2 separate regions of the Homo sapiens genome follow, and region 1 is linked to region 2. The links come from fine-mapping of genetic effects on gene expression. A gene starts in region 2. The other region holds a variant in brackets. All regions are shown on one strand. Distances are between the middles of the regions.

Evidence for each region.
Region 1: its variant is fine-mapped to the expression of CATIP in whole blood (TOPMed, PIP 0.96).

What each region holds. Positions count from the first base shown.
Region 1 is chr2:218,389,443-218,400,083 of GRCh38, reverse strand. SLC11A1 (solute carrier family 11 member 1) reads right to left here. Exons shown (of 15, transcript NM_000578.4): 9 at 10,056-10,214; 10 at 8,797-8,886; 11 at 8,589-8,708; 12 at 6,954-7,103; 13 at 5,891-5,964; 14 at 5,299-5,452; 15 at 3,190-5,159. The coding sequence ends at 5,049. CTDSP1 (CTD small phosphatase 1) reads right to left here and starts at 216. Exons shown (of 7, transcript NM_021198.3): 1 at 1-216. RefSeq lists silencers at 89-168, 239-608, 1,299-1,568, 3,809-4,148 and enhancers at 3,529-3,658, 4,828-5,496, 5,497-6,165, 6,835-7,504. The variant CACAT/T (reference allele first, on the strand shown) is at 4,990.
Region 2 is chr2:218,352,878-218,363,518 of GRCh38, reverse strand. It overlaps CATIP (ciliogenesis associated TTC17 interacting protein), which reads right to left and starts at 6,662. Exons shown (of 10, transcript NM_198559.2): 1 at 6,610-6,662; 2 at 6,332-6,424; 3 at 5,785-5,985; 4 at 5,427-5,482; 5 at 2,860-2,946; 6 at 617-784. The coding sequence starts at 6,634. CATIP-AS2 (CATIP antisense RNA 2) reads left to right here and starts at 5,553. Exons shown (of 4, transcript NR_125777.1): 1 at 5,553-5,605. It also overlaps the pseudogene RPL19P5. RefSeq lists an enhancer at 6,256-6,767.

The DNA of each region.
Region 1 (10,641 bases), 37 kb before region 2:
GGCGCGCTCCGCTCCGGCCGGACTCTGGCCCGGGCGCCCGGCCTCCCCCCCGGCTGGGGCCGGAATCGGGGCGCGGGGGGGAGGGGAGGGGTGGGAGGGAGGGATCCCCGCGAGCTCCGGAGGGGAGGGGAGCCAGGTTCTAGGGGGGAGGGGGAGGGAGGGGGCGCGGAGGAAACTTTGTTACAACATGGAGTTTCCTTCCCGCGAGGCGGATGCAAACATGGAACCCAGGCGCCGTTTCAAGGCTCCCCCTTAAAAGGGCAACGGCTTCGGCGTGACCTGGACTCGGCTGCGGCTTTCGCCACTTCTGGGACCGGCGCGGCTAGGCGGACTGGGAGGCGGGCCGGGCCGGGTTCCTGCCGCGCTCCAGGGGGCGTCGCCTCCCTTCCTGCCGCCCGCCGGCGGGGCTGAGTCTCTGCGGCTGCGTGGCAGGCCCGGCACCCGGCTCACCGTTCCAGGCCGCCGAGCGCCCTCGGCCAAGGCCCGCCCGCCGGGAGCGCCCACGCCGGGGAGTGCCCGAGTGCGGCGCGGCTCCACCTCTGCGTTTTCTGAAGACCCGGGACTAGAGGCTTCTCGGTTTCCTCGTTGAGGACTTGGAGATAGCACTACCTCATCTGTAAAATGGGTCTTCTCTCCTGTCTGGTGGTCGCAGAGATCACCTCGCAAGGACGTCAAGAGCCAGCGAAGGCTCTGCTGGCCCGAAACAGCTGTGCAAACCTCAGAATCACGCTCTTGAATGGGACGGTCGCCGCCCCCCGCAGCCCCAGGGCGAGGTGCCCCCGGTCTGTAGGACGTGAAATTCTAACTCTCTGCCCTGGGAAAGCCCCCTGCCGACCTCTCCCCACGGCCCCACCCGGGGCCCCGCACGTCTACCCGCCGCGCACGGGCCACCGCGCGTTCCCGCCTGAAGTTTTCGTACGCGCTGTTCCTTTCGCGTAGCCAAATTCCACCGACCTCGAGGAAATGCCACCTTCTCCAGGGGCCTTCCCAGACCCCCTCCCCTGCCCGCGGTCGACGGCCGCCCTGTGATTACTGGGGGTGCGGTGGGAGTCACTGGACTCGCTGCCGATCCTAGGAGCCCAGCACGGCGCCGCACGCGGTGGGCCCAAAGCCCGACCGTGGGGGACCTCAAACCAGAGGCCCTCAAGGCCCGTTCCACCCGGCCTGTGGCGCAGTGCTGGGCACTTGGGAACGGAGGTCCCTGTCTTCTCGCTGCAAGCCCCTCCGTGGTGCGCGCCGTGGGTCTGCGGGTTGGTCTTTTTCCTCGTTTATGAAGTTCTTTTCACTCGTCGTTACTATTTTGTAAGTTCACCATTTAAAAATTAATAATGCCAAGCCCGACAAACACCCCTCGGCACTTCCTCCCCTCCCCCTCTCCCGCGGGCCTCCGTGGCGGGGCGGGGCGGGCGCGTCCTGTCCCGTCCGGCCGCCGGGTGCGACGCGGCGCACGTCCGCCAGGCCCTGCCGAGGGGGAGCCGGGGAGGGGAGGCCCCGCGCGGGGGCCGGGAGGGGAAGGGAGGGGAGCGGCGTCTGCCAGAAGGCGCGGCGGCTTCGTGCGCTGAGGCTGGGAGTAGGGGCGGGAGGGGACTGTCGGGGACTGATACCCCGGTCCCCGGGCTGGATCCCTCGGCCCTCCTCCTGCTCCTGGGTAGCCCACGGGGCGGCCACCATTGCGCTTCATCACCGTGATCGCCACACGCTGCTGGCGTTTTCCTAGGCCTGCTCTGGCTGCGCCCCCTAATCTCATTTACCCCTTAGAACGGCCTCCTTCTTAACCCATTTCACAGATGAGGAAACTGAGTTTCAAGAAAGGAAGCGACGTGCTTCGGGTCTACCGGCAAGGGCAAAGGCGGGATTCCAGCCTGGGAGCGGGACATCTGTCTCCCCTGCGGTCCGGCCCCCTGGGTGGGGCCTCGGCTTTATCTCCGGATGCGGGGCCCTCATGACCCCAAAAGGAAGCGTGTGGCGAGGGACTGAGTGGAGTCGTGGCCTCGCCCTTGGCCTGGGTTGGGTGGCGCGCTTTCCTCTCCCTCTGTGAAGGGGGCTGGTACCTGGCCGGCTGTCCCCACACCCACCATTCCCAGACGCGCCATCCTGAGCTCACAGGATTCCTCAGGAATCCCCCACCTCCTCCACCCCATCTTATCGCCACTTCAAGCCGTTGCCCGTGCAGTTCTTTTCCCAGGGAGACCTAACTCCTCCTCCCAGGCTCCCAAAGCGGCAGAGGTAGCCGCGCCTTCTGCCTGGAGCCCTGGACTTATCTCCCCACGCCTGGGGCGGGTAGTTAGTTACGGAGTGAGCGAGAGGCCAGGATTGCGTGGGGGGAGGGGGGTCCTTCGAGTGTCCTCACTGTAGGGGTTGTCTACACCCAGCTGCCCTCTGTCTCTACAGGTGGAGGTCGCTTTATGCACTCTATTTTTTGTCTGTTTTATCATTCGCACCCCAGGAAAAATAAAATCATGGGGGCCACAAGTCAGAAACGGGGAGGGGCAGGAACGGGATTCAGCAAGGTGCTGTCTGGCACCTGTGGATTTGGAAGCGTCTCTTCCAACACAGTCCCTCAGTTTCCCCATCTGCCAAACAGGGCTGGTAAAAGCCCAACCCAGGGGGAGGCGGGGAGCCGTGCACAAAGTCGGGGTGCATTCAGCAGGCTCTTGGGGAGTGCCAAGTGCGACCACGCCCTCCCTGGGAGGCCTAAAGGGAGCTTCCAGAAGAGCAACTCTGCACCCCTCTTCCTGGAGGGTCGATTTGAGGCCAGGCTGGAAGAACCAGAGCTACTATGGGGGGAATGGGGGCAGCTCTAAGTAGACGCCTTCCAGTGTCCAAATGACTGACCTTGGCGCGACCTCATCACTAGCCCTTTGCCCAGGTCCTGGGTAGCCCTTTAGCCGGGTCTCCGTGTCTTCTTGACCAACCTGCCCATTACTCTGCCGTCCCCCGTCCTGCCCCACAAGATCTAAGACGTCCCCAGAAAGCTTCAGGTCTTGGCAGATGTGCACACACGTGCCCCCATGCTCCTGGCACTCTCATTCCTCCTGGGCTGTCCTGTCAACACTCCCCCCTACCGCCGACCCCCCCTTCAGCAAGATTCAGTCCCCTTCCCTGGCTGGCGTCACGGGCAGCGCCCTTCACCGCATCCTGCCACAGGGACTTGTTTGCACAGCTGTCTCCCGCCGCTGGAGTGTGGGGTCCTTGAGAACTGACATCTTTAATTCGGGACTTTGCCGCCCTCCCCAACTTGTAACACAGAGCCTGGCAGAGGACTGGCACTCAATGCCAAGAGGGGTGTGTAGGGGGTACAACGGGGGCACTTCCAGGAGGCTAAAGGATCTGGGAGATGCCTTTCTTCGCTAAACGTCCCCCATCCATCTCCTCCTTCAGCTGGCATGGACCCATCTTCTCCAGTGCCAAACCCAGAGGAGGCGGGCGGCCCTCTTGCCCAGGTACCCTCTGCAGCGCTTGCCCAGGTCGCACCAGACCGGTCCCATCTCTTCTCTCCTTGAGGGACCCACTCGCATCGTTGCCCTTTTAAGAAAGAGGAAATTCTTCTCATAAACAAGCGTCCGGACCTGAGCGCGGAGCCAGGCCGCCTGCCCTGCTGGGTCCCCAGGAAATCGGGGGTTCTTCCAGGTGCAACACCCGGCCCAGGTTCAACTCTAGGGAAAGGCCTGTTGGCCTCTCCTCGCTGCGGCCCTCCGCAGGTCCTGGGCTGGGGTCTGAGGGACCCGACGAGGCTGGAGGAGGGACTTGGGGGAGCCTAGAAACAGCCTAGGGAACGTCTATAAAGTGCAGCCCCTGAATGGGGCGAATGGGTGCCCAGCCGCTCCCTAAGGCAGAGGGGGCTCCCCGCCCACACAGCTTCCTCCCACCCACTCTCCCCGAAGGATTCTGGGGCCCCTGGCGCGAGCCCCGAGCGCCCGCCTCCCCGCGTCGTTCCGCCTGGCGGGGAGGGGTGAGGCCGGGGCGGGATGGCGGGCGTCGGGACCGTCTCTGCCCCTAGGGGGAGCAGTCAGCAGAGAGGGAGCGGTAACGGCGCGGCGTGGGAGTCGCGGCCGCCGGCTCCCCTGAGGAAACAGCAAATAATTTGGGCCTCAGAGGCACAGACTCTTGGGTTCCTTATGACCTGGTGCCTGACGGAGAAAGAAGTGCGCCGCCGTTTTACTGTCTGGAAAATGGGTTGCAGGCGGAACAGAAAGGCTGCGGCGAATAGGAGCGGACCAGACCCTGGTGTAGGGGTCTTCTGGATGCTTTAGAGACTTCGTGCCTTCCCGGTTCCCATTCCCTGCTCCTTTGGACGAGAAGGGAACTAGTATTTATTTAACTTTAATCAGGCCGGGTTTGGTGGCTCACGCCTGTAATTCCCAGCACTTTGGGAGACGGAGATGGGCGGATCACTTGAATCCAGCAGTTCGAGACCAGCCTGGCCAGCATGGCAAACCCCGTCTCTGCTGAAAATACACAAATTAGCTGGGCGTGGTGGCGCGCGCCACTCCCGGGGCTGAATAAAGAGAATCGCTTGAACCCAGAAGGTGGAGGTTGCAATGAGTTAAGATTGCGCCACTGCACTCCAGCCTTGGCAACAGAGGGAGACCCTTTCCCTGTCTCAAATAAATAAATAAATAGATAGATAGATAATTTAACATTCATCAGACACTATTTCAAGCTCCAGTTTGGAGCCTGTGTCCCGCCCAAGTCCTCAAGCCCTCACCCCACCCACCCTTGGGCTGTCAGGTCACGCCTGCAGGTGCTCAATAAATACCTTTTGAAATGTTTTTCGTTTGTTTGTTTTTGTCCCAAGTGCCAGACACTGTGTTAAAGTGCTTAACCTCCATGGCAAGGGTGGTGGTGTCTCCATTTTACAGATGAGGACACTGAGACCCAGAGGGTAATCACATGGCTGCGCTAGGAAACAGCAGGTCCCTAAAGCCCCCAGGTTGGCTGGTCTCAGGAACTGTCCCACTCTATCCTGCTGCCTGCACGCGCCCCCTC[CACAT/T]CCAGCAGGCCAGTCACGTCATACATGCCACTCCCAGCCAGGCCCTGGTGTGGGCCTAGCCAGAGGTCTCCCCTTTCTGGTCCTCTTCAAGGAGCCCATACAGGAAGTGGTGGTGGGAGCTGTGGGCCAGAAAGGTGGCTCCGTGGGCAAGGCAACAGGTCCAGACCTGGGGGAGGGGCAACCATGAATTGGGGAGATGCCAAGACCTCTGGGGAAGCCCCATTGTGTCCCCCCAAACCCTCCCCATTGGTTGCCTCTTGTCCTTCCCTCATCCATTCCCAAGGCATCCCCTGGCCCTACTGTACCAGGTAGGTGCTGAGGCCCAGGTAGGCTGCGGCCAGCAAGGCTGCAAGGCCGAAGTAGGCAGGGTGGGGCAGGCTGGGCAGATAGCTGACCACGAAGTAGAGGTTGATGGCGCAGACTAGCACCATGATGGAAGAGGTGACGACCTTGTTCAGCCTGGGGGACACGAGAGAGGCTCAGGACTGGCTGGTTGCTGCTGGCCCACCTGCATCAACTCCTCTTCATCTCCCAGCGCCCACACTGGGGGTGGGGATACACTGAGGCCGCTTCTCTGGTCTGTGGGACCTGGAGCAGACAGACCCCCTCCCCACCTCCTGCCTCCTGGGCCCTCCAGGCTACACACTGGCGGGATTTGGCAAGAGCTGAGTCTGAGGCGAGAGTGAGGCGCTCAGGCTCTAGAAACAGCCCTCTTCCCTGGATTCCAGTCTTGGCTCCTCAACTTGCTAGCTGTGTGAACCTGGGTAAGTCCCTTAACCTCTCTCAGCCTCTGTGGCTTCATTGGGATAATGGGGAGAATTGTAGCTCGTACCTCTGGGTGGCTGTGAGGATGAAATGTGGTGATGCAATCCAGCACTTGGGAAAGGGGGTACTCACAGGCCATTGGCAAACTCCTGCATGAGGGTGGGCATGCTGGTGAACGTGAGGATGGGCAGCACGGCGAACGGGAGCTGGGGAGAGCAGCAGGAGCCTAGGCTGAGGAATTCTGCCTCAGAATATGGCAAGGGTGGGGGCAAGATGGGCGTGGCTTGACACCCTCTGTGTGGGTGTGAGCTCAACTGCCCTAACCACACTGAGCCTACTTCCCCGTCTCCTGCCTTATCAGGTTGTGGGCTCCAAAGCAGGAGAAAGTGTTTGGGGGCTCTGGCACCAGGTTGCTTCGGTTTGAATCCAAGCCCTGCCACTAGTAACTTAACTGAGTGCATCAGTTTTCCCATCTGTAAAATGGAATAATGAGCCTGGGCAACAAACATAATGAGCTTTTGTCTCTACTTAAAAAAAAAAAAAAATTAGACCTGCCTCAGTGGCTCATGCCTGTAATCCTTGCACTTTGGGAGGCCAAGGCGGGTGGATCACCTGAGGTCAGGAGTTTGAGACTAGCCTGGCCAACATGATGAAACCCTGTCTCTACTAAAAATACAAAAAATTAGCTGGGTGTGATGGTGGGCGCTTGTAATCTCAGCTACTTAGGAGGCTGAGGCAGAAGAATCGCTTGAACCTGGGAGGCAGAGGTTGCAGTGAGCCAAGATCTCACCACTGCACTCTAGCCTGGGTAACAAGAGTGAAACTCCGTCTCAAAAAAAAAAAAAAAAAAATTAGCTGGGTGTGATGGCATGCACCTATAGTCCCTGCTACTCGGGAGCCTGAGGTGGGAAGATTGCTAGAGACAGGGAGGGCAGGCTGCAGTGAGCCATGATTGAACCACTGCACTCCAGCCTAGGTGACAGAGGGAGACCATCTGGGGGGTGGGAGGGGGGAAGGATAATGGTGATTCCTACCCTCCTGCCCCCCAGGGTGGCTGTGGGGACAATGGAAGCCTTGTAGGCAAGATGTGCCTGGGACAGGGCCTGGCAGGCCCATGCAAGGCTCAGCGTGGGGGTTGCTGGAGGTCCTGTTTCGCTCAGCAGTGGGCAGGGCTGGTGGGGTTGGCGCATCTCACCAGCAGGCTCTGCAGCACGTTGAGCAGATCATTGAGGCCCGACAAGTCCCTCAGGTCCCGGAAGACAGCCACGAGCACGGTGGGCAGGATGGCGCAGGAGCGGGTGAGGAGGACACGGGCGAAGCGTGACCACCGCAGCCTCAGGAAGCCCTGGGGTGGGGGTGAACTCCTTGGTGAGGAGTAGACAGGACTGGGGATTCCAGAGGAGAGATCCTCTGTAGTCCCTCAACCGATTTATCCCTGGGGGCATGCTCTGTTTTTCCACTGTTGAACTGGGACAGCTCTGTCCCTAGGTGGCAAGAGGGGATGGGTGGGGAGAAATGGGGAGCTCCCATCCCATAGCTGGTTGCTGAAGACTAAACAGTTTTGGGGAAAAGGCTTCTGTTAGTCCTGGGTCTGCAGCTTCCAGCAAGTCACCTCATCTGTCAGGATCTGTTTTCTCATCTGTAAAATGGGGCTTATAGTGTCGCCCTCTGGGCTACATGAAGGAAACAAAGCTGAGTGGGGTGGCTCACGTCTGTAATCCCAGCACTTTGGGAAGCCAAGGCGGGAAGATCACTTGAGCCCAGGAGTTCGAGACCAGCCTGGGAAACATAGGAAGACCACATCTCTACAAATAATTTTAAAAATTAGCCTGGTGTGGTGGCATGAGCCTGTAGTCCCAATGACTCGGGAGGCTGAAGTTGAGGCTGCAGCGAGCTGTGATGGCGCCATTGCACTCCAGCCTGAGCAACAGAGTGAAATCCTGTCTCAAAAAAGAAAGAAAGAGCCGGGCGCGGTGGCTCACGCCTGTAATCCCAGCACTTTGGGAGGCTGAGGAGGGCAGATCACCTGAGGCTGGGAGTTCGAGACCACCCTGACCAACATGGAGAAACCCCGTCTTTACTGAAAATACAAAATTAGCTGGGTGTGGTGGCCTGTAATCCCAGCTGGTCAGGAGGCTGAGGCAGGAGAATTGCTTGAACCCAGGAGGTGGAGGTTGCGGTGAGCCGGAGATCGCGCCATTGCACTCCAGCCTGGGCAATAAGAGCGAAACGCCGTCTCAAAAAAAAGGAAAGAAAGAAAGAAAAGAAAAGGCCGGACGCAGTGGCTCACGCCTATAATCCCAGCACTTCAGGAGTCCAAGGCGGGCGGATCACGAGGTCAAGAGTTTGAGACCAGCCTGGCCAACACAGCAAAACTGCGTCTCTACTAAAAATACAAAAATTGGCCGGGTGCGGTGGTTCACACCTGTAATTCCAGCACTTTGGGAGGCCAAGGCAGGCGGATCACTTGAGGTCAAGAGTTCAAGACTAGCCTGGCCAACATGGCGAAACCCTGTCTCTACTAAAAGTACAAAAATTAGCCAGGCCTGGTGGCAGGTGCCTGAAATCCCAGCTACTGAGGAGGCTGAAGCAGGAGAAGCTTGAACCTGGGAGGGGGAGGTTGCAGTGAGCCGAGATCGCGCCACTGCACTCCAGCCTGGGCGACAAGAGCGAGACTCCGTCTCAACAACAACAACAAAAACAAAAACAAAAAAAAAGGAAGAAAAGAAAGAAAAGAAAAGAGGACCCACAAGGCTCGGAGTTCTAGCCCCCAGTAGTGTGCCTGCTGTCCTTGGACCCCTTGCCCTCCTGGGCCCGCCCCCTGCCCTACCTCCATCACGAACTGTCCCGCGTAGGTGCCCGTCATGGTGGAGCTCTGCCCAGCCGCCAGGAGACCTATGGCCCAGATGTAGAGGGCCGCGGGGCCGAACAGGCAGCCCAGGATCACGCCCTGCAGGGACGAGTGTGGTAGGACCGGTGGCCCTGCCCGAGGCGGGGAGCCTCTCTGGGTCACGCCCTCCCCACCCACCCGCGCTCACCCCCTGGTAAATGTCCACGGCCACGGTGGCGTTGTTCATGGGGAAGATCTTGGCGTAGTCGTGGAGGCTGCTGTTGGCACAGATGTTGAACTGTGGGTACCAGGGCAGTAGAAGGAAGATGTGAGGAGCACGCTCAGCCTTGGGAAACTGGACTGCCTAGCACTGACCAGGGTTCCAAAACTGGTGGCCCAAGGCTGAATCTGGCCAGACATATTTTGTTTGGCTAACAAAATAAGTTGGGTTTTGTTTTGTTTTACTTTTACGTTTTGTAGCGATGGGGGTCTTGTCATGTTGCCCAGGTTGGTCTTGAACTCCCGGGCTCAAGCGAGCCATCTGCCTCAGCCTCCCAAAGTGCTGGGATTACAGGCGTGAGCCACCGCACCCGGCCGGGTTTTTTTTTTCTTTAATGTGGATTTGTTGCCAACATTTAAAATTGAGAAGGCCTGGCATAAGAACCCAGTTTCCAGCTTCTTTTAGGTTCGTAAGAGCTGGCATCACCACAGAGACAGCTGGCTGCCATGCCCTCTTCACACTGTCCACTTCCCACAACTCTGCGCCTGCCTGGTCTTGAAGACAAGGGTTTGCAGTCCTGATGTTGATCTCCCTCCTTGTGCCAAGGAACAGAGTGAGACCCAGGGAGGAGTGTGACCTCCCAAGGTCACAGAGCAAGGCAGTGGCAGTGCCCAGGTCCTTGGAGGCCTGGCCACCCCTTCTCCCACAGGGCTCAGCATTCAGGAAGCCCCCAACCCTGGCTGCAGTTGTTAGAGCCTCATGACTGAGATCCACTCAGAAGGGGAGACAGACACAGGTCCCAGATCCCAGAGAGTCAGGGAGGAGCTGGCTAGTTCCTTTTCCAGTATTAGCACAAATGTCATCTCTTCCAAGAAGCCTTTCCTGACCACCTGGGCTAATGCAGACCCCACCCCCATACCCCCAACTATGCTTCTTCACCCCCTTTATTTCTTCCCACTCTGTACTTCCCTTGGGTATTCATTCCTGTCTGCTCACCTCCCTCCCTATTTAAGCTGCAGAGAGCTGGGTCTTTGTAGCATTGACTGCTGTATCCCCAGGGTCTAGGATGTGCTTGGTATATAACAAATGCTCAATGATTATTTGCTGAATGAATGATATCTGCCAACAGGGAAGATCATCAGGGCAGAGACTCAGAAGGGCTCAGCTGCATTGCCTAGGGTCCTCGGCAAGGCTTACAGGACATGAGTACGTGTGTGGCCTCAGGTGCGGGGGAAAGTGTGTCTCACCGCAGCCTGGTTGGTTTTCTGGTAGAAGGCCTGCCCAAAGACAGCCATGACAAAGAGGTTGATGATAAAGGAGACGGACAGGGCGATGGTGGCCTCAATCAGGAAGTACATGTTGGCTTCTCTGATGTCTGCTCGGCGGGCCCGGTCTATCTCTCGAGACTACGAAGATCAAAGGGAGAGGGAAGTGCCAAAGTCCCTCAGAGCCACCACAGTGTCCCCCACCCTCACACTTCTATGTTCTCCCCAAAGCCCAGTACCTTCTTAAGTCCCCTGCGTGGCAGTCTGGGGCAGGTTCAGGTCAGCCGATGGTTTCCTACATCTCTGTTCTTGCCACAGAGGCCTTACCACTGTAAGCCACTGTGTGGGTGAAGCAAGGCTGGCCTTTGAGGTCCCTGGCTACCTCAGGTCCTGACACGCTCCTTCACTCACCTTGTTCCATCCTCAGACGTGTCCAGCTTACTTTATTTTATTTTTTAGAGACAGGTTTTGTTCTGTCACCCAGACTGGAGTGCCGTGGTGCAATGCATGGCTCACTGCAGCCTCCAACTCATGGGCCCAAGTGATCCTCCTGCCCCAGCCTCCTAAG
Region 2 (10,641 bases):
AATGACGTTTTTTTTTTTTTGTTTTTTTTTTTTGAGACAGAGTCTCGCTCTGTCACCCAGGCGGGAGTGCAGTGGCGCGATCTCGGCTCACTGCAAGCTCTGCCTCCCGGGTTCACGCCATTCTCCTGCCTCAGCGTCCTGAGTAGCTGGGACTACAGGCGCCTGCCACCACGCCCCGCTGATTTTTTTTTTTTGTATTTTTAGTAGAGGCGGGGTTTCACCATGTTAGCCAGGATGGTCTAGATCTCCTGACCTTGTGATCGGCCCGCCTTGGCCTCCCAAAGTGCTGGGATTACAGGCGTGAGCCACCACACCTGGCCCAAAATGATGTATTTTTTAAATCAGCCCTGCACTATATTTATTTTTCCTGGACTGACTTCTGTGCGGAAGGGTTGCTTCTCTGAACTGTTCCCACTTCTCAGTCACTCTCAATTCATCTGCCCCACACTCCCAGACAAACATGCTTTCCTGCCCTTGAAAGCCCCATTCCCACCTGTGCTGTTTTCTCCCCACCTGCCTCCCTTTTCTACTCCACAGCTGTTCCCCATCTCAGTGCTTTTCACGCCTTTTCTAGTTCGCTCCCAAGCCAAGTCCCCTGCCCAAGGGGACCCCTTACATAGGTCAAATAGCAGAGTTTGCCCTCGGTGTCCAAGGTCAGGAAGCGGGCATTGCTGGGCACCATCCGCCGCCAGGCCATCACCCTGAGCAGCACCAGGTTGGCAGCCTCTGAGATGAAGCCCTTGATTGAGCTCCAGGGGAAAGAAGTCACTCCAGTCTTCACTTCCTGTTCAGAACTGATCTGGGTCAGGGTCCTGGAACCAGGAAGGGGCAGGGGACAGGAGGGTGGGCAAGCCAGGTGTTGGGCATACGGTTTTGTTTTTTTTTGAGACAGAGTTTCGCTTTTTGTCACCCAGGCTGGAGTGCAATGGCGTGGTCTCAGCTCACTGCAACCTCCGCCTCCTTGGTTCAAGCGATCTCCTGCCTCAGCCTTTCAAGTAGCAGGGATTACAGGCTACCATGCCTGGCTAAATTTTGTAATTTTAGTAGAGACCGGATTTCACCATGTTGGCCAGGCTAGTCTTGAACTCCTGACCTGAGGTGATAGGCCCCCTCTGCCTCCCAAAGTGTTGGGATTACAGGCGTGAGCCTTTTTTTTTTTTTTTTTTGAGACAGGGTCTTGCTCTGTTGCCCAGACTGGAGTGCAGTGGTGCGATCTCAGCTCACTGCAACCTCCAGCTCCCAGGTTCAAGCGACTTTCCTGCCTCAGCCTCCTGAGTAGCTGGGATTACAGGCTCACGACACTACGCCCAGCTAATTTTTGTATTTTTATTAGAGGGGATTTCACCATATTGGCCAGGCTGGTCTCCACTCCTGACCTCAAGTGATCCGCCCGCCTTGGCCTCCCAAAGTGCTGAAATTACAGGCGTGAGTCACCACACGCCTGGCCTTCAGCCGGTCATATGGTTTTTAATGAATGAATCCTTGTCTTTTTTTTTTTTCCTTTTTCTGGAGAACGGGGTCTCGCTATATTGCCCAGGCAAGTCTCGAACTCCTAGGCTCAAGCTATCCTCCTGCCTCTTGCTTCTGAGAGCTGGGATTACAGGCGTGAGCCACCGCGCCCAGCCTAATGAATGAATCGTTAGTCTGGACTCCTGGCTTCATCTAATCTGGTCCCCGCTCAGAGTTCTGAAGAGGACATTGTGAAAGAAAAATAAATCTTGGGACCCCAAATCACTAAGCCAAAGGGAAGTCAAGCTGGGAACTGCCTCAGGCAAAGCTGCCTCCCATTTTATTCCTAAACAAGGTAGCTACTAAGAGAAAAAAAAGCTATATAACTCCCTCACTATTTGCCCACAAGGAAATTCCTTGTGGACAAAGGACAGACAGAACTCAAAGTCATCCCTCTGCTCACGTGAGATAAATGCATATCTGATGGCTTTCTCTGCTCTATTGTTTCACTAAGCCAGAGTAAGGCATAAGTGACTACTTTTCTAACCCCCATAGCATGTAAATTGTGTATTCAGTGAAAGGCTAATCGGAAACTTAAAAGCATGTCTCTTATCTACCTATGACTTGGAAGCCCCCTCCCTGCCTCGAGTTGTCCTGCCTTTTCCAATGAACCAATGTACATCTTTTTTTTTTTTTGAGACGGAGTCTTGCTCTGTCGCCCAGGCTGGAGTGCAGTGGCGTGATCTCAGCTTAGTGCAAGCTCCACTTCCCGGGTTCACGCCGTTCTCCTGCCTCACCCTCCCGAGTAGCTGGGACTACAGGCGCCTGCCACCACGCCTGGCTAATTTTTTGTATTTTTACGTCTGGTGAACCAGTGTACATCTTACACGTGTTGATTGATGTTTCGTGTCTCCTTAAAATGTATAAAACCAAGCTGTAGGCTGGGCGTGGTGGCTCACGCCTGTAATCCCAGCACTTTGGGAGGCTGAGGCGGGCGGATCACCTGAGGTCGGGAGTTTGAGACCAGCCTGGCCAACAGGGATGAAACTCCCTCTCTACTAAAAATACAGAATTAGCCGGGCGTGGTGGTGCATGCCCATAATCCCAGCTACTCGGGAGGCTGAGGCAGGAGAATCACTTGAACCCGGGAGGTGGCGGTTGCAGTGAGCCGAGATCACGTCATTGCACTCCAGCCTCTGCAACAAATGTGAAACTCTGTCTCAAAAAAAAAAAAAAAAAACAAGCTGTGCCCCAACCACTTTGGGCCCATTTCCTCAGGACCTCCTGAGGCTGTGTCATGTGCGCGTCCTTAACCTTGGCAAAATAAACTCTCTAAATTGATCTGGACCTGTCTCAGATATTCTGGGTTCACAGTGTGTAGTGCAACTCCCATCTGGCTCTCATCCTTACCTCACCCTCCTTGATACTTCTGGTCACAGCCAGCTGATCATCCTGCTTCAGCAAACTCATCTTCCGTTCCATGGGGAGGATGAGGAACTGAGGGCCAGAGCATGCGGGGGAGGATCAGGGACTCCCTGGGTCCCCCAGAGGTCACCTGACCCTTCTCCATTAATGAGAAAACTGAGGTTTAAAGATTGTGACTTAAAAAAAAAGCAGCCGGGCCGGGCACAGTGGCTCACGCCTGTAATCCTAGCACTGTGGGAGGCCGAGGTGGGCGGATCACGAGGTCAGGAGATTGAGACCACCCTGGCTAACACGGTGAAACCCCGTCTCTACTAAAAATACAAAAATTAGCTGGGTGTGGTGGCACATGCCTGTAGTCTCAGCTACTTGGGAGGCTGAGGCAGAAGAATTGCTTGAACCCGGAGGCGGAGGTTGCAGTGAGCCGAGATCGCACCACTACACTCCAGCCTGGGCAACAGGCTGTTTTTGAGACTCCATCTCAAAAACAAACAAACAAACAAACAAAAAACCAAGCAGCAGGGCCAGGTGTTGTGGCTCATGCCTGTAATCCCAGCACTTTGGGAGGCCCAGGCGGGCAGATCACTTGAGGTCAGGAGTTCAAGACCAGCCTGGCCAACATGGCAAAACCCCATCTCTATTAAAGATACAAAAATTAACCAGGTGTGGTGGTGCATGTCTGTAATTCCCAGCTACTTGGGAGGCTGAGACAGGAGAATTGCTTGAACCCGGAAGGTGAAGGTTGCAGTGAGCTAGATTGCACCACTGCATTCCAGCCTGGGTGATAAGAGCAAGACTCTGTCTCAAAAATAATAATAATAATAAAATAAAAAAAAAAAAGCAGCAGCAACAAAAACCAAAAAACACCTTTCATACACAGTGAAGCTGAAGAATAGCAGTCGTGTTATGATGCAATATAAAGTTCAAAAACAGTGCACTTCAGAACACTGGTTTTAAAAGATGGGGGTGGGCCAGGTGCAGGGACAGCAGGTTGCCACTGATAAGTTCTCCTGATACCCAAACTCTGAACCCAGCCCACACCAGCCCTCCTCCAGCCTGAGAGCCCAGTGCCTCCCTGGAGGCCTGGTGGGCTGGCCTTTCCCAGAGCCTAGCCTTCCCTGGGGGCCTGTTTCACCTGGCCTCCAAGTCTCCCAGCTCTGTGCCCCTCACACCCAGCCCCAGCCACTTAATTAACTTGTGGAATGTGAACATGACCTGTTTACACACTGGAAACTACTCAAGTCTAAAAACCTTCCCACAGAAACCAGAAACCATCCCCAACATTTTTTTTTTTTTTTTTTTTTTTGAGACAGAGTCTCGCTCTGTTGCCCAGGCTGGAGTGCAGTGGTGTGATCCTGGCTTACTGCGACCTTCGCCTCCTGGGTTCAAGCAATTCTCCTGTCTCAGCCTCCCGTGTAGCTGGGATTACAGGTGCCCACCACCATGCCTGGATAATTTTCTTTTTGTATTTTTAGTAGAGGTAGGGTTTCACCATCTTGGCCAGGCTGGTCTTGAACTCCTGACCTCATGATCCACCTGCCTCGGCATCCCAAAGTGTTGGGATTACAGGTGTGAGCCACTGCGCCCGGCTAATTTTGTGTTTTTAGTAGAGACAGGGTTTCTCCATGTTGGTCAGGCTGGTCTTCAACTCCCGACCTCAGGTGATCCGCCTGCCTCAGCCTCCCAAATTGCTGGGATTACAGGCGTGAGCCACCGTGCCCAACCTACATCTTTTTTCTTCTTTTTTCTTTTTTTTTTTTTTTTGAGACAGGGTCTCATTCTGTCACCCAGGCTGGAGTACAGTGGCACGCACATTGCTCACTGCAGTCTTGACCTCCTGGGCTCCGCTGAACCTTCCACCTCAGCCTCCCAAGTAGCTGGGACTACAGACACACATTACCACACCCAGCTACTTTTTGTATTTTTTGTACAAAATTTATAAACATTTTTGGTGGGTTTTGCCATGTTGCCCAGGCTCAAACTCCTGGGCTCAAGGGATCCTCCCACTTTGGCCTCCCAAAGTGCTGGGATTATAGGCTTGAGCCATTGTGCCTGGCCCACCCTCATTGTTTTTTAATTTTTTTCTTGAGACGGAGTCTTGCTCTGTCACCCAGGCTGGAGTGCAGTGGCGCGATCTCGGCTCACGGCAATCTCTGCCTCCTGGGTTCAAGCGATTCTCCTGCCTCAGCCTTCTGAGTAGCTGGGACTACAGGCGTGCACCACCATGCCTGGCTAATTTTTGTACAGATGAGGTTTCGCTATGTTGGCCAGGCTGGTCTCGAACTCCTGACCTCAGGGTGATCCGCCCACCTCTGCCTCCCAAAGTGCTGGGATTACAGGTGTGAACCACTGTGCCCAGCCCACCCCCGTGTTTTAAAATCAGTTTTCTGAAGTGCGTTGCTTTTGAGCTTTACATTGCATCATAACACGATTGCTATTCTTCAGCTTCACTGTGTATGTAATAGGTTTTTTGGTTTGTTGTTGCTGCTGTTTTTTAAGTCAAAATCTGTCTTCTCTCCCCTGGATTGGGTCAAGGCTGGGGCCCTGGGAAGTACCTTGATGAAGTCTTGGCTGTGCTGTTCCATGAGCTCCAGCTTCTCTGAGAGATAGCCTGGGGTGCAGGGACACAGGCATTGACGTCACAGGAGATGTGGGTCAGAGGCTGAAGGAAGGGAAGGTGGTGGCGCAGCTGGAGGACTAGGTGTAATACGGTCCCAGAAAAACTACAGGATGGGTAAGATGTGCCCTCATCCCGAGTCCATGAGGAACTCGCTCATCCCTCTCCCACCCCGTGCCTTGTCCTGGTCCAAGGCAAAGCCAAGGGCTTGGTCCTGAAAAAAGATTCTAGGAATTGGTGGAGGGGAGGGTTGGAGGAAGGGGAGAGTGACGGGCATCAGGCAGTAGGAACGCTACCCAGGAGGGAATTTCCGCAGAGCATTTTGTCCAAGAAGCCTCGGCTAGAGGCATGCACGAAGAGGCAGTATGTCAGCATGCCGAGTTTTTCCTGGTATTTCCCTCTCTGCACCTCAATGGTCAGCTCTCCCTGAGGCTCCCCGGTGTCTGAGACCATGGCCAGCGTCTCAGAGAAGAACAGCATCTGTAGCTCCTCCTTGTCTGGGGTGAGGGGCCCGTGGGAACAGATAAAGCCCCTGCTCCTGGGCCCCAATCCAATCCTCTGACCCCATGACCACCAGTGTCCCCACAGTCCCCACCTGCCTCCTCATCCCACAGCCTTCCTCACTGGCACGGACAGGTGAAGACTCCTGCCCCATGTCCCCATGTCCCCGGGGGGCCTTCCCTTGAAGAATGTCAACAAACAGGCCTCAGGCCTTTTCTGAGTCCCAGGAGAATCAAGGAAGAGAGAGAGAGAGAGAGAGAGAGAGAGAGACTGGACTTTCTTCCCTCCTCTCCAGACTTGCACCCCTCCCGCACCCCCAACCCCGACACTGTCTGAGCTCACGGAGGGAGCTGAGGAAGTCGATGGCTTCAGCATTGGCCTCTGGGAGTGGCAGACACTCCGGACCCGAGGGCTGGTGGTCCTTAGCTCTGGAGCCTACAGAGGGATGAGAGGCTAAGATGGCAGACCCTGGGGAGAAGGGCAGGGGTCAGGGAGGCAAGGCAGGGTACCTCAGTCCTGGCCCCAGCACCCAAGAACAGAATCCTCTAAGACTACCCCGAGGGTGGATTGGGAAGAAAGAAGAGGATCCCCGCCTCCAGCCCCAGCAGTCCTCTTCCCACCTGTGGAGTAAACCTTGGAGGACATGCTGTGGGCCTGCCTCTACCCGGTCTGTGTCCAGCTGTCTCCATGGCAACCAGAGCTGGACAGTGCCTCTTAAAGGGCCATCAACCCACTTTACTACACCCAGACCTTGGAGGGAACTGACACTGCAGGTTTGGGGCTCAGCACAAGCTTGAGGTGTTGTCCAGCAGAGGGAGCATTTGATATATATTTTTTTCTTTTTTGAGACGCAATCTCGCTCTGTCACCCAGGCTGGAGTGCAGTGGCGCATTCTCATCTCACTGCAACCTCTGCCTCCCGGGTTCAAGCAATTCTTCTTGAGGTCTCAGCCTCCCGAGTAGCTGGGACTACAGGCGCACACCACCGCGCCCAGCTAATTTTTGTATTTTTAGTAGAGATGGGGTTTCACCATATTGGCCAGGCTGGTCTTGAATTCCTGAGCTCGTGATCCTCCTGCCTCAGCCTCCCAGAGTGCTGGGATTACAGGTGTGAGCCACCGCGCCTGGCCCACATTTGATATTCTTAAGAGGCAGAGTGAAGAAATGGGTCATTAGAATGACCTTAGAAGAGGCCAGGTGTGGTGGCTCACACCTGTAATCCCAGCACTTTGGGAGTCCCAGGCAGGTGGATCACTTGAGGCCAGGAGTTTGAGATCCAGCCTGGCCAACATGGTGAAACCCATCTCTACTAAAAATACAAAAATTACCAGGGAGTGGTGGCACATGCCTGTAATCTGTCTCAAAAAAAAAAAAATGACCTTAGAAGATATGAACGAAAGTCAGACAGAGTCTCAAATGCACACTATCCAATTAGCTGCTACATGAATATCTCTGCAAGTTACAGTTCTAATACATGTAACAATAATGATAACAACAATGACAACATAGCAAACTCTTTGACTGGACTTATTCCTGGTGAGGCGCTTTTTTTTTTTTTTTTAGAGAGTCTCACTCTGTTGCCAGTCTGGAGTGCAGTGGCGCCATCTTGGCTCACTGCAACCTCTGCCTCCTGGGTTCAAGTGATTCTCCTACCTCAGCCTCCTGAGTAGCTGGAACTACAGGAGTGTGCCACCATGCCCAGCTAATTTTTGTATTTTTATTTTTATTATTTTTATTTATTTATTTGTTTGTTTTAATTATTTTTGAGAAAGAGTCTCACTCTGTCACCCAGGCTAGAATGCAGTGGCATGATCTCAGCTGCAACCTCCTCCTGCCAGGTTCAAGTGATTCTCCTGCCTCAGTCTCCCAAGTAGCTGGGACTACAGGCACCCGCCACCACACCTGGCTAATTTTTGTATTTTTAGTAGAGATGGGGTTTCACCATGTTGGCCAGGCTGGTCTTGAACTCCTGAGCTCAAGTGATCCACCTGTAGAGTCCAGCCCTACGGGGCTTAGCGGGTGTTCTCCCTGTGTGTGGAGACGAGAGATTGTAATAAATAAAGACACAAGACAAAGAGACAAAGAGAAAACAGCTGGGCCCGGGAGACCACTACCATCAAGACATGGAGACTGGTAGTGGCCCAGAACGGCTGGGCGCGCTGATATTTATTGCACACAAGACAAGGGGGCACGGTAAGGAGGGCGAGTCTTCTAAGTGATTGACAAGGTGAAGCAAGTCACATGATCACAGGACAGGGGGCCCTTCCCTCTTAGGTAGCCGAAGCAGAGAGAGAGACGGCAGCATACATCAGCGTTTTCTTCTATGCACTTATAAGAAGGATCAAAGACTTTAGGACTTTCACTATTTCTTCTACCGCCATCTACTACAAACTTCAAAGAGGAACCAGGAGTACGGCAGGAACATGAAAGTGGACAAGGAGCGTGACCTTTGGAGCACAGCACCACAGGGAGGGGTTTAGGCCTCCGGATGGCTGCGGGCAGGCCTGGATAATATCCAACCTTCCACAAGAAGCTGGTGGAGCGGAGTGTTCCCTGACTCCTCCAAGGAAAGGTGACTCCCTTTCGCGGTCTGCTAAGTAATGGGCGTCTTCCCAAACACTGGCACTACCGCTTGACCAAGGAGCCCTCAAGTGGTCCTTATGGGGGCGTGACAGAGGGCTCACCTCTTGCCTTCTAGGTCACTTCTCACAATGTCACTTCAGCACCTGACCCTATACCCGCCGGTTATTCCTAGGTTATATTAGTAATGCAACAAAGAGTAATATTAAAAGCTAATGATTAATAATGTTTATAATAATGATTGATAATTATCCATGATCATCTCTATATCTACTTTGTATTATGACTATTCTTATTCTAACTATTTTCTTTATTATACTGAAACCGTCTGTGCCTTCAGTCTCTTGCCTCGGCACCTGGGTAATCCTCTGCCCACACTTCCTTGGTCTTAGACCTGCGGGCCTCCGCCTGGTCAGCCAGGAGCTTCTTGTAGGCCTTGTCTGCTTTCAGCTTGTGGATGTGTTCCAGGATAATCCGCTTGTTTTTGAACACATTCCCCTTCACCTTCAGGTACAGGCTGTGATACATGTGGCGATCAATCTTCTTAGATTCACGGTATCTTCTGAGTAGCCAGCACAGAATCCTCATTCTCCTTATCCACGTGACCTCTGGCATTCGGACGTTGGCTGTACCCTTCCGCTTACCTATGCCCGTGTGCCTGCCCTTCCGGGAGGCCAAGGTGTTTTTCTGGCATGGAGCCTGGGAATGGACCATCACAGGCTTGCCGATGATCAGCCCATCTTTGATTAGCTTTCGGATCTGCTGATGGGAGCTGGCATTGGCGATTTCATTGGTCTCACTGGGGTCCAACCAGACCTTCTTGCCACAGCAGAGGACACTAGAAGCGAACCTCTTCTAAAGCCTGAGCATATTTATGGCTGCGGCTGCAGCAGCGAAAGGAAAGAACTCTGTTATTTCAGGTTCTTAAAATGTTTAAAATTGGTATATTAGAGTGCTTAAAAGATACGTCTGCAGATTCAAGTTTAAATTGGGTTATTGAATAATTGATTTTGAATTTTAAAGTTTCTTATTGAGATTGCAAGTAGAACCAGAACATTAAAAAAAATAAAATTAAGATTTACTGTATTTATATGTTTACTTTTATTAGGTTGCAGTAAAGGTATTTGGGAGGCTGGTTTATCAATCAATCGCTTTAAAAAAGGAAATAAAATATATTGGATGAACAACTGCAGTATAAGCTGCCTAAAGCAGTTTTAATTTTGAAAAGAAGACCAACCAATTATTAATTAAAGCCCCCTTGGCTGGGTGCAGGGGCTTACACCTGTAATCCCATGGGAGGCCAAGGTGGGTGGATGATTTGAAGCCAGGAGTTGAAGACCAGCCTGGGCAACATAGTGAGACCCTGTTTCTAAAAAATGTTAACATTCACTAGATTTATGATGAGAATTATATGACTGGTAAGTTGAACTTAAAAGTTTTAAAAATACTTTTGTTTGTTTGTTTGAGACAGTCTCGCTCTGTCCCCCAGGCTGGAGTGCAGTGGCTCAATCTCGGCTCACTGCAAGCTCTGCCTCCCGGGTTCACGCCATTCTCCTGCCTCTCAGCCTCCTGAGTAACTGGGACTACAGGCGCCTGCCACCACACCTGGCTAATTTTTTTGTATTTTTAGTAGAGACAGGGTTTCACCACGTTAGCCAGGATGGTCTTGATCTCCTGACCTCGTGATCCGCCCGCCTCAGCCTCCCAAAGTGCTGGGATTACAGGCGTGAGCCACCGTGCCCAGCCAATACTTATGTTTTAAAATTTATATTTTCCTATTCAACATAGTATTGGAAGTTCTGGCCAGAGCAGTCAGGCAAGAGAAAGAAAAAAAGGGCATTCAAATAAGAAGAGAGGAAGTCAAACTATCCCTGTTTGAAGATGACATGATCCTATATCTAGAAAACCCCATCATCTCAGCCCAAAAGCTTCTTAAGCTCATTAGCAACTTCAGCAAAGTCTCAGGATACAAAATCAACGTGCAAAAATCGCTAGCATTCCTATATACCAACAACAGGCAAGCAGAGAGCCAATTCATGAACGAACTCCCATTCACTATTGCCACAAAAAGAA